3 separate regions of the Homo sapiens genome follow, and regions 1 and 2 are each linked to region 3. Evidence: fine-mapped expression QTL. A gene starts in region 3. Each other region holds a variant in brackets. All regions are shown on one strand. Distances are from middle to middle.

Region 1 (11,060 bases), 51 kb after region 3:
TTGTTATAGTTTCTGCATTTGGAATAAAGATGCAGTGTGAATGTAGTTTATAGCCTATCATAAAAAAATAGCATCACCTCAAAAAATGTAGTTATCTGAACAACGTCTAAAGACCCAGAAAAGTTCACAAAATGCAATACTGATGTAATTTCTACATTTTAGAGTTTTAAACTTGATAATATACTTTTTTGAATTTGGTGGCTTTTCAGATTAGAAAAGTGGTACATATTCATTGTTGAAAATTTGGGAAATACCAAGAAAAAAAAAAAAAAGAAACAAAAACTATCTGTGATAACTAATTAATATTGCAGCATATTTTCTTTCGGTCTCTATGCCTACTACTTAAAAACTAAACTGAAATAATACAAAAAATCCTTTAATATTGTTTATATACTTAAATTGATATGTTGAGTATTTTTTCATATTGTTAAAAAATCTTTAAGGATACCATTTTTCATGTTGGCATAATATTTCATTTTGTGGGTGTCCTCTAATGCATTTTAATATGCCCCATGATTAAACATTTTGATTGTCTTAATTTTTTTCCAGGTATTAAGAAGAATGTGATGAATATCTTGGCATAAATCTTTGTTTATATCATTTGTTGTTTTCTTAGGGAAAAAATTCTAGCAGTGGTTTTGCTTGAAATAAGAATATGGATCCTGTAGGCTTTTGATACACCTTGCTAAATTGTTTGCAGAATGGTTTTACCAATTCCATTTTAACCATTATGTTAAAAAACATTTTGCCATTTTTATGGGCAAAAATGATAATTTCTTGTTAATTTAATTTGTATTTTTCCCTGAATGAGGTAAGCTTTTAAATACTTATATTGCAATCTGTATTTCATGTTTGTCCATGTCTTGATTTGTGTTTATTTGCCATGGTTAGATATTTACCCATATTTTCTTACAGTTAATTTTTTTGTTTAATTTTTAATTCATTTGAAATTGTGTTGAAACTTTTTTCACAGTCCCATATGGGCATTTGGTCCATGCCCAAAAGACTAAACAAGGGCATGCTTGCAAATTGCAAAATGAAAAGGCTTAGACATGCTACGGTAGTATACAGACTCTTCGAGCAAAGATTCCAAGAATCTTCTGGATTCAGGTTTCTTTTGACAGCCCAACCTATTCTCTTATGAGGGAGCTGTAACCTCAGCCCACAGTTTCCTAAAGATTTCGGATGAGTTCTTGGGGCGCTGGGGTCGTGATCACAGGCAGTACACCTGTTTTCATGGTCGAAGATGTTACTTGATTTTCTCACATGCCTTGCCTGCTATTAATAAGATACACAGAATTAGGGACTTTGGCTATGGATTATTCAGACAAACAGCCTCAAACCTCAAACCATCTCAAGCCATGCCTACATTATCTTTGTCAAAGGGTCAAAGGTTATAGGAGCATTTGGAATTTTATTTTAATTCTTCACTTGCACTTTTTGGGACAGTGTGCAGGTGGGGTGCTGGGGCCAAGATACAGCAGAGGCCAATCAGAACTCAGGAGAAATGTGGCAGGAGCAGGAAGAAGGCAGAACAAATTCTACTCGTTGAAAGGCCTCAAGTTCTGGGTGATTATGAACCTGAACCCCAGGATCTAGAAATAGATGTTGCAATGGAAATCAGTGTCAGATTAGCAGGGCAGATGTTTAAATGGCCCAAGATAGATGCAAATGCTTTGACTTTGTAAAAATAATTATTGCCAATTGAAGCCCCAAGGAGTCAAAGCAGCCTTCCTGTCTATATCCTCCACTGTGTGTGCCCTCCCACCCTCCTATAAAAGCAACTAAGGGAAGCCCTGGGCTGCCAAATGGCAAGTTGAGACTGAGAGGGTGCCTTGGTGGGCTGTAAGGGTTTGACTGGAGAAAGGAGGGTGATTTTTTTTTTTTTTCTCATAGGCACCAGCAAAGAGACATCTAACAAGGAGATGACCTTCAAGGCTGTCTCCATACCTAGATATTTGGTAATGCTGGCATTTCACAAGATGCTTCTGAAATTAGCATTTCAGACATTAAACTGCACACACACACACACAGATGCTAAGCCCCCCACATATATTCAGTTCTAGAACTGGTGGATTTGATTTTTTGGGAAAAGTAAAAAATTATTTGGAGCTAAAGCCTGTGAATAAGAAAACGATAGGATCTTTTTTTTTTTTGGTTAAAAAATGAGGTTAGGCTTAAAAGTAGAAATAAGTAGATATGATTAATACTAGGTTAGAATGATTACTTCCCAAGGTGACTGCTCTGAAAGGTAATATCCATTTGGGTGTATAAATTTGGGTATGTTTATTTTATTCATTTTATTTATTTTTCATCTTGATCCAGAAAAGAGTAAGGCAGACACTCCTGGTCTTTGTAAATGGTCTCATTACTTCATAGGCCTTGGGTGCATATTTCAGCCCTCTGATTCTCAGGAGTTAATTTAGAATGGGTGGGGTGACAGTGTGTGAAAAGGTATCAAGTCATATACTACAGCAGTGTACTTTTCTGCATGAGTGTTACGCTTCAATAAAAAGTTTTTAAAAATTTATGAAAACTTTGAATACACCAATCTACTGCTTAATGTAACCCAGACACTGTTAGTAATGACTTCTCATTTTAGATATAAAGCAATAAAATAAAATTATATACAATTATATAGGATACTATACTCAATATATTTTACAATATAAAAATCCATTTATACATTATTATTAGAGAATGGATGCTTTTGTTGGATTAAATGTTTGATTTATGGAGTAACTATACAAAGATAGCTTGAAATAACTTGGTTGGGGGACCCTGGGTCATTACTACCTACTGAGCATATCCCAGTCCTAAGAATTGTTTGGGGACTTCTTACGGATTGTTCCTAATCCTCACAACAAAGTTCTGCTTCTACCCCCATTTTATTGATGAAGAAACTGAGTCTCAGAATAAGAAACTATCACCAAGGCCATGGAGCTAGTCATTTGTGGAAATGGAATGCTCACCCAAGTAGATTTACTTGATCCACTAAGCTTTCTCAAACTTCCAGCATTTGCATAACACCACGATGATAGTAGGCCAAACCATAAACCACCTGTACTCTTGTTTACTTAATATTTCTCTTTAAATTGATTCAGCTTATAAACTAATCTTAAACACATTTATTTAAAAAAGAAACTTTATGTAGTTACCTATATAATTTGCCAAGTATACGGCTTTGTATGGCTACCTATATAATTTATATATATGGGTTTATATATAAATTTATGTGGCTACCTATAAACCTTATATGGCTACCTGTATACAAACTTTATATGGCTACCTATATAATTTGCCAGAAAGTAACCAACACTCAATATGCTAAAACATTACTAAATTCTAGCTAGAAGCTGTTGCCTACAGAGGTCTCTGGACCTAAGGTGTGTTCTTTCTTTGTTAAAAGAGGAGATTATCAAGTGTTGCTAAAAGGTAAAGATTTATTACCACTAAACTGAAATTTCTCTCTGTGCAATTCACTGTTATTTAATGCTATACCCAGGTGCCATCTACAGTTATCTTGAATGCCAGCAGTGGTAATGGTCTTGCATTTTGTGAAACACTGGCCTACACCATAGCATTTATTTTCCTCTCCATAGCTGTGAAATTCATATAACGCCAAACAGCCCTGCACAGGACTATGTGCTGGGGAGTGGGAACTTCAAATCCTACAAAGTTATAACTTGCAATCAAATCCAGTAGATTATTATTGTTATTATTAAATAAATATAATATTATTGTTAATGATTGTTATATATATAGTTATTATCTGTAATGTTTTAGGCTTTATAGAACATTTTCATATTGTTGCTGTACTATACTGGCAAAGCATAGCCAGGCCTGTGAATAAAGATTTCTGGTCGCTATTCAGCTGGGTGAACTAGATTTTGCAGTAATTCTAAGTTTACTTTATACTGATACATTAGTTTTCTTCTGGAGAACTCAGTACATTTTTAAATATATTATTTCATTTCATCCTCCCTGCATTCCTTCCAGGTAGGGAGACACAGTTGTACAAAACTTGATTTTTAAAATGAGGAAAGCAATGCTTAAAGGGGTGCTTTCATTTTCATTTGGCCTTACACAGGTTTGGAGTCAGGACCAGGACTAAAATTACATCTTCTGATAATTAAGAAATGACAGTAATGTTACAGCTAGGAGCAGCTTTTCTGATATAGCTGGCACATATTAGGGTGCATGGATTTTCAAAGCCATGTCTGCCCTTTGCTCCTGCTACCCCTGCAGAGTGCACGGCCTGGAGATAGAGGGCAGGGACTGTGGCGAGGCCACCGCCCAGTGGATAACCAGCTTCCTGAAGTCACAGCCCTACCGCCTGGTGCACTTCGAGCCTCACATGCGACCGAGACGTCCTCATCAAATAGCAGACTTGTTCCGACCCAAGGACCAGGTGAGAGGTTCTGCTGCCTCCATGGGTAGAAAGCAGTCACCCCCAGATCAGGGGGCTCAGGTGGCATCTCTGATGACCTCGGCTCTGTTGTTTTCTGGGGCAGCCCTCTGGTAGCTCAGATCACAAGCAGTAGGCAGAAATAAAGCCCTTCCCTTGGAAGCATTGTTTGTTTCTTTGTTTGGGGGACTCTTGAATTTTTGCCCTTGAGCATCTACCTTCCTATTTGTGTAAGCATTCTGATGCCAGTAGGGTTTCAAAACTGTTCTGCACCAGTGTCTTTTTTTCATTCCATTCTGTAATTGCACATGGAGTCCAGAATTTTTACAGTTTGCAGTTGTATGTCAGATTCCAATTGTGCAAGTTGGCATGGGTATGGAGATACACAGACTCAAATGATCAGCCTTAATGGCATAAAGCTCTAAGGATTCATCATAAAAGCAGGGTTTGTAGTACCATATACTGCTTTTACCATGGCCATAAAAAAAATAAATTATGCTGTAGTCCTTACTGCTAAGGAGGCTGAGGTGGGAGGATTGCTTGAGTCCAGAGAGTTGAGGCTGCAGTGATCTGTGATGGCACCATTGCACTACAGCCCAGGTGACAAGGAGTCTCTGTCTCAAAATATATAAATAAAGAAACAAGCAAATGCATAAATTATGGTCAACATAAATATTAATTTGTAAGTTGCATAAAATAAGTATTCATGGAATTAGTGAACATTTAAATCAAACATAATGAGGTCATCAAACTCAACCACCTTATTAAACATTTGAGAAATGGGAGGCTTAGAAAGGTTCAGTGATGTCCCCAAGGGCACATGCCTTGTGGCAGCTTAGGATTGATTCTGAGTCCTTGTTCCCTTCATTCCACCATGCAGTTTCTGCTATCTGCAAGGCTATT[G/T]AAAACTTCTGAGTCACTGTGACTTCTATTAAAAGAACAAGAGAACTACTTTGAAAGATTGTGTGTGGGGTGGGGTGGAGCATGGAGGCTATGTCTAGGAACTAGGCACACCTAACCACTGAAAAGTTGGTGTGCCATGTGTTATAACAATGTCTATTTCCTTATCAGATTGCTTACTCAGACACCAGCCCATTCTTGATCCTTTCTGAGGCGTCGCTGGCGGATCTCAACTCCAGGCTAGAGAAGAAAGTTAAAGCAACCAACTTCAGGCCCAATATTGTAATTTCAGGATGCGATGTCTATGCAGAGGTAACACTATGCCCCTTTGGATCTTTCCTTGGATTTGACTTCTTTTTTAAGGTATGAGAGTCTTTGACATTGGATTAGATTATTCTGAAGGGTGCATTATTTATCAACTCTGTAATACATAACAATTTGATTTTTAGATTTATTCAGCACTTAATAAGTGCAGACTTCTGTGTGGAGGATACAAATGTTGATGGGTCAGAGACTGTCATCAAGGAGGCAGTTCAGTATCTAAGGCTTCTAAGGAGAATTCTGAGTTGACAGGTTCGTTGTTGAGTCACATTTTCTTGCATAGACTACATGATCTGTGTGGGCCATGGAACAAAGAAAGTGTGTGCTCCTGTCTTGTTAAAGGATGGTCTTACTGTTTAGTAGACGGCTCTCTTGGAGAAGACAGGCATTTACTGCAAGGCTGCTGGGTGAGGGTTGGGAGAGGTTGTTGCCCCTAAGCTTCATGGCACTACCCTGAAATGCTTGCAGTGCCACCTTCCATCTGCCCTCAGATGTTTGCGTGGTGACTTAGCTTGAACAGCCCTGAGGCTTGGTTTCTGGGATTCCACAGGATTCTGGCAGCAAATTTACCTTTGTAATAAATGGCCTTTGGCTATTTAACTTGATTCTCTCCCTGGGCTTCCATGAAGGCAGAGGTTGGTGGCCTAGAGGCATGGTGAGTGGCCACCAGCTGTGGATACTCAACAGAAACCCTGACCCACAGCTAGGAATTCAGGAGCTCTGGTTGTGCCTCAAATTTATGTTGAGAAGGGAGAGGTAAAGGGGACCATATAGTGGTTCTTACGTCTGCCCATTTCCTCCATAACAGGGAAAAATGGAATCAAAGCAATTGAGTTTTAACCTTTTATCCTCAGAGGAGCCAATTATATTCTTCACTTTTGCTGTACGGAGGCAAAACTATGCTGAAAGAGAAATAATCTAAGAATTTGATTCCCACATTCAAACCAGAAGATGTGACGGCTGGTTTCAGCTTCTGCACTGGCTTCTGCATGACTTTGAGCAGCCCCGCTAAGTCCCATTTACCTTGCCTGAACAATGAGATGATCATATTTCTGCCTAGGGTTACCTTAAGGGTCTGTTGAAGGGTCAGTTTGGATAATGTAATTTATGAGATGTATAAAAGCAATATCAATCGATGGAGGATAATAAAAGTACGCCCAAATCCACTGCTAATGCTTCATATAAAATACTCATTGCTCCAAACTTCCAAGGGTAGCGTTTCTTCTAAAGATGGTGGAGAACTTCCTAGTGTGAGGCGGGTGGACTGTGTGCATGTCCCCCAAGGTCCTGGGTTGGGCATCTCTCAGTGCTTCTTTGTGACAAGAAATTTCTGCCTGTCCTGCTCCTGTGCACCATGGGCCAGCCTGACTTAGACAACAGGAAAATAATCAGTGTTTGGTTGCCTTTGACCATCTCCTTGATATTCATCTTCCACCAGCTATGGCTAGGAGAGCCATTTCTCCTGAGAACGTTCCTTCTCAGGAAAAGAGAAATGAGTGGGGAGGGTTTTGAATGAATACTTGTGTTGCGCTTAAGTATGTTGTCTCTTCTATGCCTCACGGCAGCCCAGCGGGATAAAGCTATCATTCCTATCTTACAGGAGAGAAGAGAGAGGCTTGGGGAGGTGAGGTGGCCTGCCCTAGGCTATACCACAGCAAGGAGGGGCTGGGTTTTGAACCCCAATTGTACAAGGCCAGAGGAACCCTGAGAATTCTAGGGCATATGTATGGGGCTGGGACAGCTGGATTCTAATCCACCTGCTTCCGCAAGTGACCGTACAAGCCTGGACAGGTCACCAAACTCGCCGAGGCATCTGCTTCTTGCAGTTGTAAAACACGGGCAGTTTCAATGACTCCCTCGCCTGATGGGAGCTGTGAGAATCAAGGTCGATGACAATTTGTGGAAAAGTTCTAGGACATTAAGTACCACAGGGAGGTAAGGAAGAGTTTCATTCCTGGGAGTTTGGCTCAGGTACCAGCTTTTTCCCTATGATCGACTTTAAGCTTTCTTTCTCCCCTGTGTGATTTGTGCACCGAGGGTCATGCTGAAGCCATTTCCACCCCAAAATTCTGTGACAGTAAGATTCGGATGACAGGAGAAGAGGAGATGGCCCAGAGTAGAACTTCAGATCTCGGAGATTTCTTTCAATTGAGTCTTACTCTAAAAACCCGTATCTCTCTCTCTATCTCTGAGTGTTCCCTAGTTGAGAACATTCTGTATGTGAAGCTGGGCGGTAACACAATGGTGGCTGAGCCGGCCTTGTTTTTAGTAATTCACCCATCATCGAGTGGGTTGCTGCCCCTGTGTGGCATGCGCTGTGAATAGACACATGAGAACAAGGGTTGAAGAAATGCACTTGCTTCTCCTAAGGAGCTCAGTGTGGTCAGATAGTGAAAAGTCACAGCACAGTGAGATATGGCCAGGAGGGTGGCGAGCAGCCAGACGTGGGGACGTGACTAACACCTGCATTGTGGGGTGAGCTGAAGCATGGGGCACCCAGGGCTCTGGTCTCAAACCCTTTCTCATTTGTCTGCACTCACTTTTCTGATCTGTTCTTTCTTTCCTTTTTTTTTTTTATTTAATCATCTGTTTTTAAGACCTTCTCTGCCCTGAGGACCCCTAACTATATCCTTCTGCCAGAGCTTTCCCCTGCTTCTCCATATCTCCATGTGGATGTCTAATCCAACGTCAGGATGTCTGAAATTGAGGGTCAGGTATCCACCCCAAAGCCTGCTGTGCTGTCTCGCCCATCTCAGCACACAACAGCTCTGACTTCCGCTGGCTCAGGCCCCAAACTGCGAACCACCCCTTGTTCTTCTCTTTCTCTCACATCCTAGGTTCCTACAGTTGACAGATCTTGGTGGCTGGGCCTTCCCCCCCACTCCCCTCTCTGCCCGGATGCAGTCACCACTGGTGCTGCAGCAGCCTGGCTTCACTGGCCTCCTTGCCCCACCCTTGACCCAGCCCTGCACCATCCATGGGCTGTTCTCAGCACATCCATCAAGGTAACCCTGTTGATGTAAGTCACATCATGTGATTTGTCTGCTCAAAGCCCTCTCATGGTTCTCCACCTTTCTTCAAGTAAAAGATGGGATCCTTATGGATTGCCTGGAAGGCCCAACATGACCTGCACCCCGCCAGCTCCCAGCCCCTTCTCCTCTCACTCCCCTCTGCTCTCTTACTCTGCCCCAGCCATACTGGCCTTTTTTCTGGGCCCCAGCTGTGTCCTCTGCCTGGCATATCTTCCCTCACAGGCCTCATGGCTCACTCCAGTGCCTCTTTCAGTCCCCTGCTGCGGGCTTCACTGACCCCGCTCACCCAGCCCCCCCCACAGCACACACCCCACCTAACAAGCCGTGTGTACTCAGGTATCAGTGTATTGTCTGTTTCCCCTATGCAAGCTCCTTGAGGACAGGGGCTGCTGTATCTCCAGCCCCTAGGAGAGCCCCTGGTACATAGAAGGTGTGCACTAATTATCTGTTAAATGAATGACCTGGACAAAGTATTGTCCAGGAGAAAGGGGGGCACTGAGGGAGGGGTACATACACAGGGCTATGAAGGTATGAGAGAATGGCCATCTTGCAGTGCTGGGGCTCAGGAGAGGAGGGGAGCTGAGAGCACAGGTACTTGGTGTCAGGTTTTGGGGAGTCTGGGAAGAATTTTTGGCCAGGGAGTGACTGAATCCGATTTGCATGATACACATTTGCCTCTGCCAGGAGCCTGGAGAAGGATTAGCGCAGGCGGGGCCAGGGTGCAGCTGGGAGAGCAGGCTAGCATGGAGGAAGGCCGAGGACCTGCATGGAAGTTTCTGGAAAGCAGACCCACTCCTCATCTCGGAAGCTACCTTCTCAGCAACTGTGGCTTTTCGCTGCCTCCCTTCATCATCGGCACTCCCCACACACATTTCTTACACCTCACTTCTCCCTGAAGCCACAGTAGAGACAACCACCCTACCTGCCACAGTCAGTGACCGTTTCTCAGTCACCACCACCCCGCTCTGAGGACACATGGACACTACTTACTGAAACGTTTCTCCTTTAGCTGTACTGCCCTTGCTTCTCTGCTGTTTGTCCTCATCCCTTACTTCCAAAAGTTCTGGCCTTGACCCTTTTCTCTCCCCTCCTTGGTGATCACACTGTCTCCTGCAGCATCGCCCTCTGTCACCTGACATAGGTCCCTCAAATGTCCACCCAGGACTCCCTCTGGAGTGCTGCACCACAGTTCCAACTCTTTGTTGGTTGACAGAGAAACTCAGACTTATGTGCTCCCACCCCAGCCCCTACACCCTCACCCCACCTCCCTAAACTCATTCTTTCTTTCTTTTTTGAAACAGAGTCTTGCTCTGTCACCTAGGCCAGAGTGCGCTGGCATGATCTCAGCTCACTGCAACCTCCGCCTCCCGGATTCAAGCGATTCTCCTGCCTCAGCCTCTTGAGTAGCTGGGATTACAGGCAGACGCCACCATGCCTGGCTAGTTTTTGTATTTTTAGTATAGACAGGGTTTTGCCATGTTGGCCAGGCTGGTCTCGAACTCCTAACCTCAGGTGATCCACCCGCCTTGGCCTCCCAAAGTGCTGGGATAACAGGCATGAGCCACTGCGCCTGGCCCCCAAACTCCTTCTGTTGACTTCACAGTTTCTATCCAGGGCAGCATGTTTTTTTCTTTCACCCAGGCTCAGAGCGTGACAGTCGGCCCTGGCTCCTCCCTCTGCTGTGTTCCTCCCAGCCCCAGCCATGTCGGCTCCCCTTTCTATCCTTAGCCACCAGCCAGATCCTACGTTTGTTACTTTAAGTTTGGACCACTGAGTGCTCCCTCCTGAATGTTGCCACAGCCAAGCCTCCTAGAGCTGATCAGCGTGATCTCTCCCGCTCTAAAAGTTTGTAACAAATCATCAGTGTTGCTGACTTGCTCAGAAGCCTTTAGTGGCTCTCCATGTCACAAAGGTCCAAACTTCCCACTCAATCATTACATTCCTCTGTAACCTTGCCACAGTCTGCTTTTCCAGCCTTTATTACCAACTGTATTAGTTTATTTTCATAGTGCTATGAAGAAATACCCGAGACTGGGTAATTTATAAAGAAAAAGAGGCTTAATGGACTCACAGTTCCACATGGCTGTGGAGCCCTCACAATCATGGCAGAAGGTGAAGGAGAAGCAAAGGCACGTCTTACATGGTGGCAGGCAAGAGAGTGCGTGCAGGGGAACTGCCCTTTATAAAACCATCAGATCTCATGAGATTTATTCACTATCACAAAAAAAGCATGGGAAAGACCCGCCCCCATGATTCAATTACCTCCAACTGGGTCCCTCCCATGACACATGGGGATTATGGGAGCTACAATTCAAGATGAGATTTGGGTGGAGACACAGCCAAACCATATCACGAACGAAAGCTCCAAACTGCAAACTGGTGTCTCCTGGTCACTGAGA
Region 2 (11,060 bases), 20 kb after region 3:
ATACAGAGTGCCGACATGTACGATGGTTTATACTAGGCTCAGTGCAAAAGACCAAAGCCTCTGATTCTGCCATGAGCTAAGGTTTAAAATACAAGGACCTCAGGGAATTTCTCTCCATAGCCCCTAAACTACAAGCTCCTTGAGGGCAGGGGTTTTTATCTGCTTTCTTTACTGCTGTTTCCCCACTAGAACAGTGCCTGGTAGGTGCTCAGTAAATGCCTAGTGAGTGAATGGTGTTGTTGAGGAAATTATTACTGGAGTATAGCTGATTGGCAGCAGGTCCTCGCTGTTTGAGGATGATGGGGGAAGGGGGTCGCTGCTGGAGTGGGAGTGGGAACCCAGGAAGAGGAAGCCTGGTGAGTGACATTGGCCCAGAGCCGGCCCTGGCTGCAGCCCTGTCCCTGTGTATGGGCAGGAACTGCTCCAGCTCCTGGCCACTGCAAGCCCAAACTCACATCTCTCTCCTTCCTGAACACTGCTCCCCTCTTCTGCACTGAAGAGGTTTTGCTTCTGGACATTACTTAGCTTTGTAGTTGGTCTAGGCCATTTTGTGGAGTGGTGGGGCCTGACTATCCTGTGTTCTTGGCAAGGTGGCCTACCCAGACTACTGCCCGCTCCTGATCATGACAGATGCCTCCCTGGTAGATTTGAATACCAGGATGGAGAAGAAAATGAAAATGGAGAATTTCAGGCCAAATATTGTGGTGACCGGCTGTGATGCTTTTGAGGAGGTAAGCGACCCACTGCTTTTGTGCATCATGCTCAGATGTGCTGCTCGCGGTGCTAAGGGAACTCTGCTCTAGCCAGAGCCAACTCAGATCCGCCAGGGTCCAGTCATTCACTCATTGCTGCTGCCATCACTCATTGCTTGCGGAGTTGTTCACCCATTGTTGCTGCCATCAACACGCTGGCCTCGGGGGGCGTTGCTCTCACCCGTTAATGCTTGGGCCCCAAAGCAAACAGTCAAAACTCGAAATTGTAGCAAATCTGAGGTTGGAATATGTAATCATAGCTCAGAGATAACTGAGGGAAGCGAAGATAAAGAGAAAGATAAAGCCATTTTCCACTTCTCTATCACTCAGCAGAGCTCTCAAAGATTTGAGACTTTCAGAAGACCCATGCCCCAAAGTGCAGACCAAGAGGACACAGGCAATCTGCCCCGGAGACATACCATGCTGTGGCCTGAGTTCTCTCCCAGGGCACCCACATGCTCTTCTATGGGATTGACACCAGACATTTCCACCCTTTTCAAGGACACACCTTTGTGGTCTTAAGGGAAAACTACATCAGAACCCAGTAGAAACCCTGAACTCTGTATGTGATATATATATAGCTGGGTATTGCTTGGTGATAAGAAGGATTAGCCATCATATTAAGCCTCAGGGGTGAGCTAAACTTTCCGAGCAGTGGAAGTAACAATGACAAATACCATTTATTGGGTGTTTACTGGGTGCTAGGCATTGAGCTAAATAATCATTTCAGATAAATTACTTTATTTGATCTTTACGATAACCCTGTGAAATTTGTGTTACTGTCTCCTTTTTATAAGGAAAATGAAACTCAGAGGTGTTATACACTTTGCCTAGCAGAGAAATGGTGACTGGCATTAGAACACAAGACTTGTAACTCCAGCATCTGTAGAGCTGGGGTGACAATTCCAATTTAGAGATCCCAAATAGTTAACTCTGAGAGAAGAGGCTCTTAAACACCCTCTCAATTCTTTGCTCCCCTGAATGAATGACCGTACTTCCTTTTGTGTGAGTAAAATGTGCCCTAATTTTTTTTTTTTTTTGAGAGAGAGTCTCGCTCTGTCACCCAGGCTGGAGTGCAGTGGCACGATCTCGGCTCGCTGCAAACTCCACCTCCTGGGTTTGTGTGATTCTCCTGCCTTAGCCTCCAGAGGAGCTGGGACTACAGGCACATGTCACCACCTTGGCTAATTTTTGTACTTTTAGTAGAGATGGGATTTCTCCATGTTGGCCAGGCCAGTCTTGAACTCCTGACCTCAGGTGATCCACCTGCTTCAGCCTCCCAAAGTGCTTGGATTACAGGCATGAGCCACTGTGCCCGGCCCCTAATTTGTTGATAAACATGGTTCTTTAGGATAAACCTTTGCACTGAGCCTTGTATAAACCATCGTACATGTAGGCACTCCGTATTATCTGATAATTTGAAAAATAGCTGCCAGGTGCTGTAGGTGCTCATGTCTATAGTCCCAGCACTTTGGGAGGCCGAAGCAGGAGGATTGCTTGAGCTTAGGAGTTTGAGACCAGCCTGGATAACATGGCAAAACCCCATCTCTACTAAAAGAATATAATAATTAGCCAGGTATGGTGGTGCGTGCCTATAGTCCCAGCTACTTGGGAGCCTGAGGTGGGAGGATGGCTTGAGCCCCGGGCCGGAGATTGTGCCACTGCACTCCAGTCTGGGTGACAGAGCGAGAACCTGTGTATTTAAAAAAAAAAAAGGAAAAGAAAAGAGCAATAGCAATGTATACAGAAGTTGTCTACTTGATGGTGTTATCTTGTCATTTGTTATCTAGTTGAATTCCTCTGTGCCTTTGTTAGTTTTTAAAATTCAATCATCCATTATAGGTCAGGCATGGTTTGTAGGAGCCCAGATACAGATGAAAAGATATGGATCCTGCTCTTCAGAATGTTCCAACATGAGGGGCATGGCCAGGAGACAATGACAGCCCAGTGTCAGACGTGCTTTAGTGTACACACTTAGAAGATACCAGAGATGTGTAGAAGTAGAACTACCTAAATCTGCCTGGAGAAGGGAGGCCTGGGCATGGGGAGGGGTCAGGTCCAGGTCCCCGGAAGCAATGCTGTTCACCCTATACTTGTGTGGATTGTGTGCAGGCCAGGGTCAGAGGAGGGTCTTTATGGGTAAAGGTGACAGGCAGTTGGGAGGCCTAGAAGCACAAGAGGCCATGAATAAAGGGGTGCTTGGGAGCATTTTAGAATCACAGGAGCATGGGGGTAAAGGAGAAATGTTAGGGAGGCTGCACTGGAGCTGGCTGGAGGCCACCACACCAAGGAGTTTGGATTTTATACTGTGGATATTGAGGAGCTGGTAATAACTCTGAGCAAGGAAGTAATTATGATTTGCATTCTTCCAATAAATATCTGCCGAATGCCTGTACAGTGTGCCAGGCACATATTATTCTGGCAACTCTCTTGAACACTCATTGAAAGGCAGGGAAGCCTGAGACAGAAATACCAAGGCCAGGCCCAGTCACTAGAGAGTCTTTGTTTTTTTCTTTTTTGAGACAAGATCTCACTGTGTCACCCAGACTGGAGTACAGTGGTGCAATCACGGCTCACTGCAGCCTCGAACTCCCCAGCTCAGGTGATCCTCCCACCTTAGCCTCCCAACTTCCCAACTAGCTGGGACTACAGGCATATGCCATCATGCCTGGCTAATTTTTGTATTTTTTTGTAGAGACAGGGTCTCCCTATGTTGCCCAGGCTGGTCTTGAACTCCTGGACTCAAGCAATCTGCCTGTCTTGGCTTCCCAAACTGCTGGGATTATAGTCATGAGCTACCTCACCTAGCTAAGAGTCTTTTTTCTAAAGTGCAGATTAGCAGGCCCTACCTGAAACCTACATGAGCATTGTGACAAGGCCTGCATCTCTGCACTGGCAGCAGCATTCCAGGTGAATCTCATGCCCACAGTGTCTGGAGAAGCACTGAGCTAGGAGAGTGCAGGGACCACGGGGGTCAGAGATGATACAGGGTCAGGGCTGGGAGGGCAATGGAGAGTGCCAGAGAGGAAGAGGCCCCCGACGTACTCAGGAGACTAGTTTCTTGAGGGAAGGAACTAGATTTTTCTAAGAATGAATCTAGACTTGGTGGGACCTGAAATTTATACAATTTGGGGGCCCCTTTAAGAAAAAAATAAAATTATTGACAAAAATATATAAAATTAACAAAAATAAAATTAGGTTCAAGGCCTTGAAAGGTTCTGTGCAAATAAGGCGCCTGAGGCTCAAGCCTCAATGGCTTGCCAGTAAACCCACCTCCCCCTCCCAGTTCTAGTTTCCCACATTGTCTAGTAGGATGTACATAATATCAGATTCATTAAATGCCTGGCAAACAGCAAATGAAATTCTCTGTTTCAAGAAGTATGTTACTAAAGATTGGAATGGAAATTAGTTCATGGAGTAGAAATTAATCCATGAAGCAACAGTTTTTCCACAGGAATCCTGTAATTCTTCCATTATTTTCTGAGAAACTTTCTTTTAGGGAATAAAATGTTTCCTGATTTGTTTCCACTAAAGAACAGATTATTTTGATATTAATTTTAGTTTAAAATCCTGAGCCAAGGAAATAAGAAAAAAGACACTCTTGTCCCTGGCTGAAGCATTTTTGCTTTCCTGTACCTTGCCAACCTATAATTTTTGCTCTCCTATAACTTGTCAAACTGAACCTAAGGCTAATGTAAACCTAATCCTGCTTTCTTGGGCAGTGAGAGTGGAGTTGTCTCTTCTTCTTCTTCTTTTTTTTTTTAAATAATAAACTGAAAATAAAAGTACAAAAAAAAAAAAAAAGGCTAGGCATGTCCTAGAACTTTGGGAGGCCAAGGCGGGCAGGTTGTGTGAGTCCAGGAGTTCGAGACCAGCCTTGGGCAACATGGTGAAACCCCACCTCTACAAAAAAAAAAAAATTAATTAATTAAAAGTGAAAAAAAATAAACTGTTAAATGAATTTGTGCTCCCAAGTCCATTTGTCATTTTATTCCTGTGCTATGATGGGCTTACAGAAGTAGCAAATCAGGTAGAACACTGATTTTTCTCGAACAATCCTCTGGCCACGCACATTAAAAAAAAATCCTTCTTATTAAATGACGCTAATGTTGCTGATTTATTCTTCCTTAAATTAGGAAGCCCAGTAGTTAAAGGCCTAATGCATTAATCTGTTTACCTGGTACCATCACAAAACTGTAACTCTTTCAATGAGTAGGACTCTCTTAAATATTAATGTAAAATGAATATTCAATAGGCCAATTAATCATTAAAAATTAGCAAACCTCAGCATGAAATTCAGGCCATCATTTATTGCAAAAACACAGAGTAATAGGAGAATGTATTGTGTAACATTTACTGTCTGTGGCCTAAAGTACTTTGTACTTTGTCCGTGTAGCTCAGAATATTAAACGATTTTTAAAAGGCTGCTTCCTTGGGTCAGTGTGGTGTGCTTGAGTTCCGGGAATGCAGCAAAATGAAGTTTAGAAATAATGAAATTGACCAATGCTTCCTATCTCTGTAGTTGGCCATTGTGGGGTCAGTGTTTACTGATCTTTGCTCACTGTCCTGATGAGATAAACTTGATATTTTTAATGGAATAACTTGTTTGTATCAGTCCTCACTCCACATTATGAAAGAATTGTGGAGAAGCTTGCAGAAAACTCTTGGTATGTTATCTTTCACTCAGGAAGTGTTTCTCCAGGAAACTTCCAGAGAGGGAGATTTTGAAGCTGAACAGCTGTGGTTGGACTCTGAGCCTCACTGCTTACTGGCTGTGTGGATTGGGTCCTCCCAGTCCTATCCTTTCCAGCTGTTGAGAAACACAGTTTTTGTAAATCATGATCACTAGACTTTTCAGTCCCCAGAAACTGAGTTTGGGTGGGTTAGGATTTGAGATAACAAGTCCGTTTTCTGGTGTAAGAACAGCAGTCTCTACCAGGCTTCAGGGATTTCTTGAAGTAGCGGTAATGATAACAATATACAAAAATAGCAGCAAGAATCACGACTCACTGCTATTGAACACTTACTACGTTACAGGCACCGTGCCAAACCCTTTACATGCATTATCTAATTCTAGTTCCCTTTCCAGACTGTGGGTCACAACCCATTATTGGGTTCTAATATCAGTGTAGTGAGTCCTGACTAACACTTTTAAAAGAAGTACAGGAAAGTATAGGGTGGAATAAAAGATATCAGAGTAAACTATATGTAGAAGGGTTAAGAATTGTCTTGCAAAACTCTCTTATGTGTACACATGGGAGAGTATTAGGAAACAGTGTAAAATGTGGTTTTCACTGTGGGTCATGGCTGAAAATGTCTGATAGCCATTGAGGCGGGTAGTGTTTTGATCCTTGTTTTTCAGATAAGGAAACTGAGACTCAGAGAAGTTGAGTAACTTGCTCTCGAGGTC[G/A]CATAGCCAGCGTGTGGCCAAGTGAGGACTTGCACTGTGGCTGGCCGTCAAAAGTCCCTGAATATCAGCCAACTACACAACTCTGCCACCTTGTTAAAGCCATTTTCAGGTCATTTGGCAAACCTGTATAGGGCCCCAGTCACTGTGGATGGGCTGGGGGGTCATGGGTGTCAGGGGCTGCCCTCTGAAAGAAGCAGGACAATTGTGCTCAGTAAAAAATGGAGAAGAAGAACAGGTATCAGCTTTGGCATAAGGAAGATTAGCCTGAATTTCATGTTCATTATCTCTGTTAGAAGCAAGCTGAAAGCATCTGAAAGTCATTTTTCTTTCGTAATGAAAAGAACCAAGCAGGGGCCTGGGGAATGCAGGTGTCCCCTCCCTGCAGGCGTTTGTGGCATGCCTTTCAAGGTAAAAGTTCCATGTCCTCATCTGGGGAGCTTCTGACATGCGTATATTTTTAGGGGACTCCAGCAAGAGTCTTGGATGGATTTGCCTTGATTAGGAAAAGCTCCAGTGATTAAAACAGGAGGATAGGCATCAGGAGTGGATGGAGTAGGAATACATTCACATTTCTGAAGAATTTGCCAACAGAACTCCTTTACTTAAGGAGATCTCCTTCTACATTTGCTTTTTTGATTACAACTGAGTCATTTGTAATATTTTCCAGAGGGGCTTTTAGGGGTTGGGCAAGAGGGAGTGAAAGATGGCGCAGCCAAGGACTACAGGACTTTCGCCTCTTTCTCATCAAGGAGAAGGAGGAGATGCTTCTGCGAGGTTCCTTCCGCACAGCCTCACACAGCTTTCTTATCACTACACCCAGTGAGTAAGCGAGACACCCCTGGAAAGCCCGCAGCTAGGGCGGCCAGCGGAAGGCGGATTAACAGGAGACCTGCAGTGAGATCTGCCTGGGCCGGTGGGTCCCCCTCTGGCTGCACATCGGGCCAGCGGACAGCCTTAAACAACACTGGTGCCTCCATCTCAGGTGCAGCTTGGGCAGAGGGAGCTTTTGAAGCTCCCCTGGGGTTTCTAGTGTGTAGCCAGGGGTGGGAACCACTGGGCTAGGGTTTTCCAGGGGAGCAAAGTCGTAACTGGCAGGAGTTGCGGATGTGCCTGGAGAGCAGAGTGGCCTTTAAATCATCGTGAGCTTGGCCTTAACCTCCCTGAGCATGATTTTCTGATCTGAAAGTTAACAGGTTCTACCAAGGGACTTTAAAGGCTCTTTGCAGCCCTCAAGTTGTTTAACTCCCTGGGCACTTTCTTCTCTCTCTCTCTCTTTCTCTCTGTGTATGTGTGGTCGGTAAAGGCACTTTTTCACAAATGTCTCTCAGAACGCCCTGTCTGATAGAACCGCTGCATTGGCTTTTTCTTTTTTTTTTTGGCGGTCAGATCACAAGGTTAGGAGATCGAGACCATCCTGGCTAACACAGTGAAACTCCATCTCTACTAAAAATACAAAAAAAAAAAAAAAAAAAAAAATTAAGCGGGCGTGATGGCGGGCGACTGTAGCCCCAGCTACTCGGGAGGCTGAGGCAGGAGAATGGCGTGAACCCGGGAGGCGGAGCTTGCAGTGAGCCGAGATCGCGCCACTACACTCCAGCCTGGGCGACAGAGCAAGACTCTGTCTCAAAAAAACAAAAACAAAACCAAAAACAAAACAAACAAAAACTCATATTGCACATGCTGTGTTCTAGCTTTTTTGTAAGTGAACTCGTTTAATCTTAACAGTCACTTAAAGTCCATTTCTCGAGATGTCCTTCACCATGCTTTTTCTAGTTTATCCCTGCCCCTGAGTGAGCAAGGCTTTGTGTGAGACCTTGTTGAACTGAATTCGAGGCAAGGACTTGGCCATTGAGTTGTGTTTATCAGGTCTCATCCACTTCTAAATATGTTACATTTCAGACCAAGGAGGAAGTGTGTCTTCAGAGACGGTGGTGCGCGGTATTCCCCTCGAGTGAGTGTGATACGTGAACGCACGCTTATCGATCCCTTGTAAGGAGAGGTCATTCACTTTACAATGCTACCCAAGAGACAAGCCCTTCAAATACAGATGTTGGAGTAGAGACGGCAGAGTGGAGGTAAGGCAGGATTGATCTCAGAGACCATGACCCCCCATACCTTTCTCTCGCTGTTCTCTGGAGGGCTGTGAGTCACTGCATGGACAAAGTGTGCTGAAAAGCAGTCCAGCACAGCCCAGGCTACTGCCTTTGGGAATTCAATTGGTAGCTGCCCCTCCCAGCCTCTGCTGTTGGTCATGTGGGACCACCCAGCCAAGCCCAGAGTGGGAGACTAGAATGTCTTATGTTCATCAGGCACTAAAATTCTCGTGGCCGTAACCTCCCCTGAGAGGAAACTGGTATGTGGGTGGAACACACAGACGGCGTCAGCCTGCAGGATGTCCCAGTCAGTGAATACACTTCAGAGCAACATGGCCACATCTCAAGAGCTCTGCTTCCCTTTTTGTAGCCTGTTGCTGGTGTTTCTAAGAGTAGGTGGTCTCCAGAGAACAGAAGCCAGCTTCTAAAAAAGCCTTAGGCAGTCCAGGCTCCGTGGCTCACGCCTGTAATCCCAGCACTTTGGGAGGCCGAGCCAGTCGGATCACCTGAGGTCAGGAGTTTCAGACCAGCCTGACCACTATGGTGAAACCCCATCTCTATTAAAAATACGAAAATTAGCTAGGCATGGTGGTGGATGCCTGTAATCCCAGCTACTTGGGAGGCTGAGGCAGGAGAATTGCTTGAACCTTGGAGGCAGAGGTTGCAGTGAGCCAAGATCGTGCCACTGCACTTCAGCCTTGGTGACAGAGTGAGACTGTCTCAAAAAAAAAAAAAAAAAAAAAAAGCCTTAGGCTTCTGTCTTTCTCTTCTGCTAGGATTTTCCAGGTCCAAGTGTCCCAAACAACAGATGCCTCCAGGCACATTTAATATGCATTAAGGTTTACAGAAATGTGTCTCATGCGATTCCGTAGGAGCATACACCAGATATTGTGTAATGTGAGGATACTTATCCTTGAAGGATAAAGCACACTGGGTCTCCACACAGTGCCGTTCAAACATGGGGTCATGAGAAAGCCCAGGGAGTCTGGAACCAGGGCTGTGGAAAACATTTTAGTGATTAATTTCAAGAAGCTTTTCAGATAGTTAATTTTTTTCTGATTATAAAGGATATTTTAAAAAGTAACTCATACTCTTTGCACAGCTTGAAAAACACAGTATAGATTAAAGAAACGCATAAAAATTCCTCATTGGGTAACAGCGCCCACCAGGGCCTCTCGGGGGGTGGGGGACAAGGGGTGGGAGAGTATTAGGACAAATACCTAATGCACGTGGGGCTTAAAACCTAGATGATGGGTTAACAGGTGCAGCAAACCACCATGGCACAGGTACACCTATGTAACAAACCTGCACATTCTGCACATGTATCCCAGAACTTAAAGTAAAATTAAAAAAAATTCTTCATCATCATACTATTAAAAGGTAGCCTGTGATAACATTTTGTTGTGTTTCCAGTATGGTTTATACAATATTGTAGAAATAGTATTAAATTCCACCATTTTCATTTAATGGCACATGGCAACCAGCTCTGTCTTTGCAAATCCTTCATTTGCGTGGTTCCAGTGGTTCCATGTTAGTCCATCCTGTGACTCTGCAATAACTTGTTTAGCCATTCCCTTATGATTGAGCATTTAGGTTGTTTTCCATTTTCTCTCACATAAATAATGAGCAGCTTTGTAAAATGGTGGGTATCTACATTTCCAAAAGTATTCTTAGGAAATGCTAATGCAGCATTTTAAAGGCTCTCTGTATATATTGCCAAATTGCTTTCCAGAAACCTTATACCAATTTATATTCCCTCAAGGTGAGCATAAGCGTGCCCTTTTCATTGTGCTCTTCCTGGCATTGCTATAATTTTTACTAATTTAGTAAGTGAAAAGTAATGTCCTATGTAAGTTGGTAATTCTTAGTGTATGGCATCCTGTCTTAGTCCCCAAATTCTAAAATATTCATATTTGCAGCAAATGTTTGAGGGTTTCCTAGTGCTAGTCTCTGAGATAGATGCTAAGATTACAGAGATGACCTCACTGTGTCTGCCTGCAAGGGTCTCAGGGCCAAGTGGGATCAAGGCTACAGTAGGTAGAGGGCTGCAGCTGAAGTCAGGACATCAGACTTGAAGGATCCCAGTGAGAAAGAGGCACTCTGGGCAGGGTGTGTGTGTGTGTGTTTGTGTGTGTGTGTGTGTGTTTGGGGGCAGTGGATGCTGAAGACTTGCTTGATATGAACTGGATCCAATTGCGGGAACCATGGCATGGTCTTTCTTTATAAGAAGAGTGATTAGATTTTGAAATATGACATTAAGGAATATTCATTAGCTTGTATGTCTTAAGAATAGAAAAAATAACTTTCGGTTTGAGATCATTTAACTCTGGTATAATGGGAAATATATATTTGGGCTTCGTCTCTGGTTCCTGGCACAAGCTCCTAAGCCCTTGGAATTTCCCGAGTGACGGGGTAAGAGGAGTTTCTTTTGTCATTCATAGCAAGCCCCTTTCAATCATACCTGACTTTATGCTAGTGAGATGACTCTTGGGGAAAGAGGGGTGTCCCTAGACAGCTTTGGTATGTGAGCTGGTTCTTAGAAAGACTAAGCCATGATTAGAGGGTTGGGACTTTCAGCCCCACCCAGCCCTGATCTCAGGGGAAGGGAGAGGGGCTGGAGGTTGAGTTCAGTCACCAATGGCCAATGATTTTATCAATCATTTACATGAAATGAAACCTCCAAAAAACCCCTGAAAGATGGGGTTTGGAGAGCTTCTGAGTTGGAGAACACATTGAAGTTCTGGGAGGGTGGTGCACCCGGAGAGGGCATGAAAACTCGGAGAGCCTCCATCCCCATCCCTTGCC
Region 3 (11,060 bases):
AGCTGCTTGGAGTTGGGGGAGGGGTGACACCATCCCTCCTATGGCCACCACCATAGGACTTTGCTGGGCCACACCTGAAGCCAGCGCAGCACTGGGTCTTGCCCAAGGCCTGCTGTGACCACTACCTGGCTACTGCCTATGTTTGCTTAAGGCCCTAGGCCTTTACAATCAGCAGGTGGCAAAGCCAGCCAGTCTTACATCCTTCCCTTCAGGGTGGCAAGTTCCCCCAGGCCCCATGTGGGTTCAGAGATGCTGTCAGGGAGCCAGGGCCTGGAGTCAGAAACATTAGAAATCTACCTGGTATTCTATTCTGCTGCAGCTGAGCTGGCACCCAAATCACAAGACAAAGTTCTTCCCACTCTTACCTCCCCTTTCCACAGGCAGAGGAGCTTCTTTCCATGCCAGAGGAGCTTCTTTCCATGCCACCATCGCCATAGGCCCACCGGAGTACTGCCAAGCTACTGCTGATGTTCGCTTAAGGCTCAAGGGCTGTTCAGTCAGCTTGTGGTGAATACTGCTATGCCTGGGACTCACCCTTCAGGGCATTGGGCTCCCTTCTGGCCCAGGACAGGTCCAGAAATGCCATCCAACAGCCCGGTCTTAGAACCAAGGACCCCAAGAGCCCACCTGGTGCTCTACTCCACGGTGGTCACACTGGTACCTAAGCTGCAAGGCAAAATCCTGTTTACTCTTCCCTTTGCTTGAAGGAGTCTCTCCTTGTAGCCACCACTGCTGGGAATGTGCTGGGTCACACCTGAAGCCAGCATGTTTCAGAGTCTCACCCAAGTTGAGACTTGGTCCCTAGTGCCTTATTTAGTTCTTTTGGTGACGTCATATTTTCCTGGATGGTCTTGATGCTTGTGGATGTTTGTCAGCATCTGGGCATTGAAGAGTTAGGTATTTATTGTAGTCTTCACAGTCTGGGCTTGTTTGTACCCTTCCTTCTTGGGAAAGCTTTCGAGGTATTCACAGGGACTTGGGTGTTGTAATCTAGGTTTACAAACTAGTATATGCTGTGTAGTATATCCACAGCATATACTACCTGGGTACTGCTGCTGATTATTCATGGCTCTAGGGCTCTTTAGTCAGTAGGTGATGAATTCTGCCAGGACTGAATCCTTCCCTTCAAGGCAGCAGGTTCCCTTCTGCCCTAGAGTATGTTTGGAAATGTCATCTAGGACCTAGGGCCTGGAATGGGGGCTTCACACCTCTGCCTGGTGTCCTATTTTCCTGTGACTGAGCTGGTATCCAAGTTGCAAGACAAAGTACTCTCCTTTTCTACTCAAGTAAGAAGACTCTTTCAGAGCTGTGAGCTGTGCTGCCTGGGGTTAGAAGCGTGGGTCAAGAAATCCCTTAGATGTGCTGGCTACTGTCTCACTAGGTTGCATGGCCCCCGAGTCCACTGGCTGTGAGCCCAGCACAGCACCAGGACTTGCTTAGAAGTTGCAGTCCTTGTGGCTTATACTGCCTTTCAAGTTTATTTAGTACCCCAGAGCCCGTTAGCCTGTGGAAGCAAGGCTTGCTGAAACTTAAGTTGTGACTGCTGGGATGGGTGATTCCCCTCTGGTTGGGGCTGGTCTAAGTGCTCCTTCCATGGGTGTCAGCTGAGTTCTGCCCATATTGCTTACTGCTGTGATAGGAAAGCACTGAGTTCCAATGCAAAGTTCCACAATCGCTGTGCTCTTCCTCCCCCAAGAGCACAGACTCTCTCTTGGCCACTGCCAGGAGACTGGGGAGGGTGGTACTGGCAATTCAAGACTATCTTTCCTACCCTCTTCAGTGCCCCTTTCAGTGATACGAAGTTAAAACCAGGTACTTTGATTGCTCACCTGATTTTTGGTTCTTATAAAGGTACTTTGTAGTATAGATAGTTGTTAAATTGGTGTCTCTGCATGGAGGATGATCTATAGAGGCTGCTAATCAGACATCTTGCTCTGTCCCTGCCACTTGGTTTTATGTGTTCAAGGGAAAGTAGGTGAGAGATCCAATGCCATCTTCCTTTCAAAGCTGAAGGTGCTGACTATCAAGCTTGAGTTTCTAATCTGGTGCTTTCAGCCCTGGTCATGTGGCTGGATTTTCATAGTCACTAGGGCATTTTGACTTCCTAGCCATGGTTCTTCTTCCACTATATATATATGCTTAATATCCATTCAAACTCCTGAGTTTAAGCGGCTCTTCTGCCTCAGTGTCCAAAGTAGCTAGTATTACAAGCATGCACCACCATGCCTGCCTCATTCTCTCTTTTTCTGTTGTTTTAAATTTTTTGTAGAAACAGGGTCTCATTATGTTGCCCAGGCTGGTCTTGAACTCTTGGGCTCAAGTGATCCTCCTGCCTCAGTCGCCCAAAGCACTAGGATTACAGGTGTGTGCCACTGGGCCTGGCCTAAGGGGACCTTTGATTAATGTTTGGCCTGCATCAAACTGGGATGTAAGTGAGAAATAAACTTTTATTTTGTTAGAGCATTGAGATGTTGAGGTTGTTACAATATTTTAGCCTAGCCTGCGTCATGAGATTTGTTATATGGGTTGAAGGTTGACTATCCTCACTGCCTGATAATCTGATGTGCTCATCTCCCCAGGAAAGACAAACTGCTACATGGCCCTGATGAATACTTCCATTGGCTGCTGGGTACTCACCTTCCTGAAGAGGACCTGGCTAAGCAAGGTAATATTTGGGTTTTAGGCTTCTTTTTTTCTCTGGTTTCTTGGTTGATATTTTAATTGACAGAGTTTTCTTTATCTATGTCAGTGCCTCTAGGCAGACAATGATGTCTTATTCACTAGAAAGATTTTTCCTAAGCAGAAGTTGCCAAAATATGACAAACTAGGGGAAAAAGTTATGACTTGGGAAGGCATGATAAAAGGGTAATTTTCTTAATTTATAAAAGGATCTTATAAATTAACAAAAAAATAGATAAGTTGATTCAAATCAGAAGGGAAAAAAGATATGCAAACAGCCAATTAGACTCATGAATCCTCAACCTTTGATATGGTTTGGATCTGTGTCCCCAACCAAATCTCATGTTCAATTGCAACCCTCAGTGTTGGAGTTAAGGCCTGCTGGGAGGTGATTGGATCATGGGGCTGGTTTCTCATGGTTTAATACCATTCCCCTTGGTGCTATCATCCTGAGAGTGAGTTCTCATGAGATCTGGCTGTTTAAAAGCATGTGGAACCTCCCCCCTCTCTCTGGGTCCTGCTCCTATCATGTAAGACATCCACTGCTGCTTTGTCTTCCACCATGAGTAAAAGCTCCCTGAGGTCTCCCAGAAGCAGAAGCCGCCGTTCTTCCTGTACAGACTGCAGAACTATGAGCCAATTAAACATTTTTTCTTGATAAATGACCCAGCTTCAGGTATTTCATTATAGCAGTGTGAGAATGGACTAATACAGCCTCTCATCACCCCTCACTAATTCTACAAATGAAGATGCTGGGCTGCAAATGTACACATTACTGATAAGGAATTTCCCTGCTCCCCTGAAGGCACCCCCAACCCCAGCATTGGTGAAGCTTAAACAGGGCAGGCTATGATAGATAATGGCTGGTGAAGACAGCAAAGACTTGGCAGCACTCACCATGGCAAAGTTCCTCACTTGATGTCTATCCCCATCATTTTGCACATGAGGAGGTGGAAGCATGGAAAGGTCAAGTTACCCATCTATCTAGGTAACTATTTCTTCTTTGATGTCTCAAAGATACCTCTCACTCGCTGTTCACAATAGGCTCATCATCTTTTTTCCCAGACTATCTTCTTCTCTTGAATTCTCTTTTTTTTTTTTTTGAGACGGAGTCTCTCTCTGTCGCCCAGGCTGGAGTGCAGTGGCGCGATCTCGGCTCACTGAAAGCTCCGCCTCCTGGGTTCACACCATTCTCCTGCCTCAGCCTCCCAAGTAGCTGGGACTACAGATGCCCACCACCATGCCTGGCTAATTTTTTGTATTTTTAGTAGAGACGGGGTTTCACTATGTGAGCCAGGATGGTCTCGATATCCTGACCTCCTGATCCGCCCACCTCGGCCTCCCAAAGTGCTGGGATTACAGGTGTGAGCCACTGTGCCCAGCTTCTCTTGAATTCTTAATCTCTGAGAATGGTACCCCCATCCCACCCCAGACTTTTATGCCACAGAGCCAGGAGGCCCCGTGGGCTCTTCCTCTCCCTCTGGCTCTGTGTTCTGTCATCACTATCTCTTGTTAATTCTGTCCCCTGACCATCTCTCCTAACCACATGTCTATCTCCAGCCCCACTGTTATTTTTCCTTGATTTGGAATTACATCAGCCTGAACTAGGGCATTTGCAACTCATCTAACCATCTTTGGTGTTACTCTTTCTCAGAGCAGCCAGAATGGCCTTCCTAGCACCCAAGTCTAATCATGCCAGACTGTTGTTCAGAATTCTGAGGTGTCTCCACATTAAGTAGAGATAAGATGCCTGTTGATCTGACCTCTGCCCACCTGTCCTGCCTCAACTCCCGCCACCTGCTGCATGCACAGGTACATCCTAATACAGCTGGATTGCTGGTGGTTGCCCAAACATGCCACACTCTCTTGTTCCTTCCATTTTTTCAGGCTATTGCACGTGCTGCTCCTTTTGCCCAGAATCCTCTCCTTTACCCATCTCCAAGCCCCTCCTCATGTTCAAGTCTCAGCTCCAAAGCTCCGCCCTCTGAAAACAGCACTGTCCTGAGATTCAGCTGCTCTTTTGCCTCTGCATCCTCTGCATCTTGACCTTGCTTCTCCTCTGACATTATCCTCTAGACTTGCAGGGGAGGTGTCAGTCTTCTGGGGAGTCAGTGAACTGGATGGAAGGGCAGCTTCTTCTAAACTTTAAATCCCCAGTGCCAATCTAGGACGAAGCCTGGTGAATGATCAATATCTATGTGGTGAAAGAAAGAGATGATTAATCAATAAGACATTTGCCCTGTCTGGGAGCTCACGTATAGCGAGGCGATGGCTTTGTAAGCCCCTCACTCTGACAGCAGGCTTGTGGGCAGGGAGGACTCTGACCCTCCTCAGGAGTTGGGAGAGGCAAAGGGGGTCAGCTACAAGTGTACACACATCACATTCACCACACCATGCTTAAAAAACAAATCCATAAGTCGCAGCTGCCAAGCATGATGTAAATGTATGGGGATTGAGGGACTAATTCTGCTGGCCTGAGGTTTTTTCCTGGGTGGGGAGAGATTCAGGCCCTGTTTTGTCTTTCACTTTTCACAAGGAACAGCCAAAGGGAACCTGGCTCCTCTGGTTCTCCATCCTTCCCGGAGTCTCTTCCCACACTCCAGAACGGGCCCCTTTCTCTGGAGGTGGCCAGCCCAGATTTGGGGGGTGGCCCACTGGTTGGCCTCCTTAAACTTTCCTAGAACTGTGCCACAGTTTAAGGGACAAACTTTTGAAAAACAGAACAACAACAAAAAACTTGAAAGACTTCAAACCTTAATTTGTCTGAGAAAATCCACTGTTAACCCAATAGCTTGCTTGAATGGAGGTGTTAAAGATCAACAAAGCCAGACATTAGTTAAACCATGAAAACAGATTTTACTCAGTAACTACTTACAGTAGGAGAAAAAGCTGATCATTCTCATTTGTGCATAGCAGAATGGGCGTTTTAAAGGGTGAAGGAGAGAATAGGGCCGGGAAGCTAGCAGGGGATCAAGTGAAAAATCATGAAGGGGCGGTCAGTATTAATGACGGGCAGCTGTGCCTGGAGCTGGCCGTTATGAAGCTGGGATTCTATCCTCCCACAGAGACTGGGGGACAGAGGCCTATCCTCCCCATGACTGCATTTCAGAGCAATGGCTTTCAGGTCCTTGAGAAAGACACTTCTGAGGTGTAGGCGATACATATACATCTCAAAGCAACAGAGAAAGGATTCACAGTTGTAAGCCCTTTTAAGAAAATATCCTAAAAAAGGGAGGTCAGGGGCTTTACCATCGGGTGTTGGCTAGAATAAACGGGGAATTCTCCTGGCTGCCTTGAGCTTTCTCGGGAAGACATTTTACTGGGGTCGAGGTTAGGCGGCAGCGGAGGGTGGGGGACCTTGAGTCATGCTCCTATAAGCCACGCTAGAGTTCCTCGTCTTTGAGTGCAGAGGTTTAGACTGTGTCTTTGTGTGCAGAAAGTCCTGCAGTTCTCACAGCGACCTGCCAGAAAAAGTCGTTCCCAAATGTTTGTAAATCCTCCGTTGGGCAACCCGCCTTCACGTTCTGCGGTGATCTTGTCGAGCGACTAAGCGTGCAGTATTAGCAGAGAAGGGGGTGGCAGAGTGCTGGCGCTGAAGGTCATGTTGCATGGGTAACTGTCGTGTTGTAGGGGCGGGGAAGAGGGAGGAGACACTGACCACCCCAGAGGCCGCCCCATTAGCTCGCTTGCTTTGGGCGGCGTCGCTCCCACGGCGCCCAGGGTACCCCCGCCGCTGTCTGCCTGTCTTCCTCCATTACCGCGCAGGCTTGGTCACCGCATTAAGGCATTCCCGCTCTCCGCGGAACTGCTCTGCCGTCTCGGCGGTGAAAGTGTGAGAGGGTCCGTAGTTGGGTCAACTTTGACTCCTCTCGCCTGCCCGGATCCTTAAGGGCCTCCTCGTCCTCCCGGTCTCCGGTCGCTGCCGGGTCTGTGCGCCGGTCCGCGCCCGCCCTCGCTCTGCCATGGGCGCTTCCAGCTCCTCCGCGCTGGCCCGCCTCGGCCTCCCAGCCCGGCCCTGGCCCAGGTGGCTCGGGGTCGCCGCGCTAGGACTGGCCGCCGTGGCCCTGGGGACTGTCGCCTGGCGCCGCGCATGGCCCAGGCGGCGCCGGCGGCTGCAGCAGGTGGGCACCGTGGCGAAGCTCTGGATCTACCCGGTGAAATCCTGCAAAGGGGTGCCGGTGAGCGAGGCTGAGTGCACGGCCATGGGGCTGCGCAGCGGCAACCTGCGGGACAGGTACAGCACAGCGCGGGCGCGGGGCAGCGCGGAGCCTGCCTGGGATGAGGAGCGGGGGGGCAGGTGGGGCCCGATCTATCTGGGAAGGACTATAGAGGTTTGCCACCTGAGTTTCTGGGCTGACTGTTGGGCCGTTGGTCGTTTATCTGGGAAGGCCAAGTTCATGCCAGGTTTATTTTTGGTAAAGTAGGTAGGGGCAATCCCTTGCCCTTCCCTAGACGAGAGATTCCTCCTCTGTAACAGGAGGGGGTCTGACCTGTATCTCCAAGTCTCCTTAGCTCTAAAGTTTGTGATTCTATCCTAGTATACCAAAGTAGAAAAATAAAGCTATTGGCACTAGAAAGCAGCAAGAAAGAAACCAAGTGTTGTTCAAGGACATTGGCTTAGGCCTTGCTGGGCCTTGTTCCTCACATTTCTCCAATCCTGGGGGTGCCCTGGAGGCCTGATACACTTTGATGAAGGATGAGCAAGTGGCATGGGGACTCTGGGGCAGAGGTGATACTTGCCATTAAGGGAATAGTGTCCCCCCTTCTCCCATAGGCAGAGTTGTTCACAGCCTGGAACTTTGGGACTTTTGGGCCTGACACATAGACATTTCATACTTAGGATTAAGATGCCTTCTTCTTTTTTTTTTTTTTTTTTTTTGAGACAGAATCTCACTTCGTAGCTCAGGCTGGAGTGCAGTGGCACTATCTCAGCTCACTGCAACCTCCATCTCCCAAGTTCAAGCAATTCTCCTGCCTCAGCCTCCCAAGTAGCTGAGATTACAGGTGTGCGCCACCACGCCCGGCTAATTTTTGTATTTTTAGTAGAAACGGGGTTTCACTCTGTTGACCAGGCTGGTCTCAAACTCCTGACCTCAGGGAATCCACCAGCCTCGGCCTCCTAAAGTGCTGGGATTACAGGTGTGAGCCACTGTGCCCAGCCAAGATGTCTTCTTATCTGGCCGAGATGGTTTAGCTGTGGGCCTGTGTCCGAGGGGAGGGAGGTTTGCAAGTTGATCATTCAAGGATTCCTCTAGCAGAGAGCCACCTGCATCCCTGTGTTCACTCCAGGACACGCGGATGCACTGTTTTCTGAAGACTGCTGCCCTCTTAAAGAAATGTGGACTTCCATGGTGTTGGAAAACTTCAGAGAGTCTTAGAGAAGTGTTGTGTACACAGACCATATGAATCATGGGAGGATTTTCATTCTCCCACCCTTACCCCAGATTTCTTATCCTGGAGAGCTTTTTCAACTATAACTTCCTGAGATTCCCATCCCAGGACTACGGAAGCAGAATCACCAAGAGTGGGGCCAACTCGTGTAGAATGTTTAAATCTCCCCCTGGTGATTTTGATGCTATAATTAAAGGATTTTATCCGAGACCATGAAGAAGAAGAGGATGTTTAGAGCTTATTCAAATATGAAGGATAAGAAAAGCCTTCCTATTACTGGAAAGACTTCAGGCTGTGTGGGACTGGACACCTTCCAAAAAACTGGGAGAACCAAATTCTCACGATGCATGTCCAGAGAAAATTAGTGTTGCAGGCTAGGTTGCACTACTTCCTTCCTCGCTTGAAGGGTTGGTTTCACAGACAGTTTCCAGTTCTAATCTGCGTTTCCTCTGATCACCTGAAGAACGGTTTCTTTCCCACTTCTCTTTGTCACTGCTTTGCCATGACTACTGCAACCATGGAAAGAAAATACGTGTCCTTTGCCTGTGCTTTTTGCTCCCACTGGCATCCTAAAATAAATACAACTGTATTACCTTTCCCTTGTTTTAAACAATAAACGCTTAGGATGGGGTGGGGTGATGTGAAGCCTGGGGTAGAGGGAAAGGCAATGAAATTAATGTTATTCAGTGTTAAAATGCAGCAGACACTGAGCTAAATCCTGTCGCATAGATTAGCATATTTAAACCTCATAACAATCTTGTGGGCTAGATAGTATTATCACCATTTTGCAAATAAGGAAACAGTATCAGAATGAAGGAGTATCCCATCCAAGGCCAGAAAACCAGTGTGTGCTGTGGGGATGTGAACTCAGATCTGTGTGAGTACAGAACTTATGCTGTTTGTATGAAACCAGTGCATGATATAAAACTATAAGGATTGCACTGAGGATCAGGAGACTTTGGGCGAACTTCTACAAAGTTGTCTCATTTGCAAAAGAATGAGGTTGAACTTCATGGTCTCTAAAGCCCCATTTTAACTACATTTTATTTATCAAAGCATAATTAACAATTTGAAAGCAGGCTTGCTGGAGAGAACTCTGTTTGATAGCCGCTGTCTTCTCCACCTGACAATTTAATAACACTACTACAAATGTTCCTAGAGTTCAGGGAAAGGCCTCATTTAATGAATTCCATTCTGAACCTGTGTCTTTGGAACTAACTGTTCCAAGGAGCTGGGATTTTCCTCTGGAAGTGCTCTGGGTCTCAAATTTCTAAAGGTATTTTGTTCAAAGCTCTTAGTATACTTGTGAACACTTGGCTTGAGCACCCTAAGCATTGAGTGTTTAAAGTCCACCTGGCAGAATGCTGGCATTCGGTGCCTGGTGCAGTTGCTGGGAGGGCGTGCTTGTCCTCCCTGACCTTGGAAATCTCTGCTCTCCTTAGCAGCCATATGTGAGTTGATCAGTTTTATCTCTCTAAACCCTTACTGAAGCCAGTCCTTTATTTCTTCTGCACAAATGATGAACTGTTGGAGAAAGGAATCCCTTAAGTTTATTATTGTCCAGGGTGTTATTCCCTGCCCAATTCCTGCTGTTTTTCTCCTCCCACACTCAGTAGTAGAGTTCCTGCTTTCCCTCACTTTTCAGTCCTTCCTGCTCCCCAGGCCAGTTTGTAATTGAGAAATGATATTTTTTTCTGTTGTTTTGGGCTCCACTTACCCGTTGCTGTTGGTTGTTCGGGGCTCTATAGCTCTTTTGGGGAATCGGGGCTCCAGGCTTCTACACTGATCCCTCTACCACATACTCATGTTTTACCTGTGAATTCAAGGTGCTGGCTTTTAGTGTTGCAGACTAGGTTGGGGTAACTTGGTTATGATGAAATCTATGCTCCAGACTTATCTCTTCTTTCAGATCTGGCAGAATAGAACTAGTTATTCATTCACTGGGCATCATTTTGTGCACAAGAGGTGAAAAATAATATTGCCCAGGTTGACAGGGAAATGAGATGGTTGGGGTATGTTACAAATGGTAACCTTTTAACCTGTGATTGCTGTATTTGTCCTGTTCCAAAATTGGACTCCCTGTAAGTTGCCAGTTTTTCAGTGACAGTGATGAGTGGGAAACCTCTAGTGACAACTTCCCACTGTTAACCTCAGCAGTTAACACCTGTATTATTATACAACAGTCTGGAGCCACAGGCCAGGCTGTGAGCCACGGTGAAGGGCGACATTAATAAGGGATGAATGGGAGATGAGAAGATTCAGCCCATGGAGAAATAATGTCAGAAATAATGTGCAAACAGGTTTGCCACTCCTGTTTGGACATGGCTCTGGTTGTGTGCAGATCTCAAAGGGAGTCTTGTCTGGGGAAGGGGCATGTTGGAAGTTAAGGGTGAAGGCTTTAGTGAGGCTAACCAAAGAAATGTGCACCAAGGGACAAGGCTGGAAATAGGGAATAGGGCCCAGCCCTGTGAGGCATCTAAGTCAGTGGATGCCTGCCTATTTCACTGTAGCCCCATTCTCTGGGCAGACATCCTCAGATTTACAGAACCCAGCCCCAGGATGAGTGAGCCAGAGAACTGTGGGATCTAAAGACATCTTTGACCAGGCAGGATGGCTCACATCTGTAATCTCAGCACTTTGGGAGGCCAAGGAGGGAGGATTAATTGAGCCAGGAGTTCCAGACCAGCCAGGAGGTCCAGACCACAGTGGGACCCCATCTCTACAAAAAATAAAAAGATCAGTTGGGCGTGGTGGTGTGTGCCTGTAGTCCCAGCTACTCAGGAGACTGAGGCAGGAGGATCGCTTGAGCCCAGCAGTTCAAGGCTGCCATGAGCTAAGATCACGCCGCTGTACTCCAGAGCCTGGGTGATAGAGTGAGACCCTGTCTCCCTCTCTCTTGATATTAATTAAGTATAAATATATATAAATGAATAAATAATACACATATGCATATATACACTTAGGAAATGGTGGGCTGGGCACGGTGGCTC

What was found. PIP is the estimated chance that this variant, and not a neighbour inherited with it, causes the effect.
Region 1: its variant is fine-mapped to the expression of MTARC2 in left ventricle (GTEx, PIP above 0.99).
Region 2: its variant is fine-mapped to the expression of MTARC2 in whole blood (INTERVAL, PIP above 0.99). The same link has a PIP of 0.9 or more in adrenal gland and pancreas.

What each region holds. Positions count from the first base shown.
Region 1 is chr1:220,792,395-220,803,454 of GRCh38, forward strand. MTARC1 (mitochondrial amidoxime reducing component 1) reads left to right here. Exons shown (of 7, transcript NM_022746.4): 3 at 4,249-4,411; 4 at 5,480-5,620. Among named protein-coding and RNA genes, the nearest start is that of MTARC1, 11 kb to the left of the region's middle. The variant G/T (reference allele first, on the strand shown) is at 5,312.
Region 2 is chr1:220,762,320-220,773,379 of GRCh38, forward strand. It overlaps MTARC2 (mitochondrial amidoxime reducing component 2), which reads left to right. Exons shown (of 8, transcript NM_017898.5): 4 at 591-731. Among named protein-coding and RNA genes, the nearest start is that of MTARC1, 19 kb to the right of the region's middle. RefSeq lists an enhancer at 6,808-7,102. The variant G/A (reference allele first, on the strand shown) is at 6,163.
Region 3 is chr1:220,741,891-220,752,950 of GRCh38, forward strand. MTARC2 (mitochondrial amidoxime reducing component 2) reads left to right here and starts at 6,432. Exons shown (of 8, transcript NM_017898.5): 1 at 6,432-6,913. The coding sequence starts at 6,642. LOC124904516 (a long non-coding RNA gene) reads right to left here and starts at 6,925. Exons shown (of 2, transcript XR_007066884.1): 1 at 5,929-6,925; 2 at 2,430-4,873.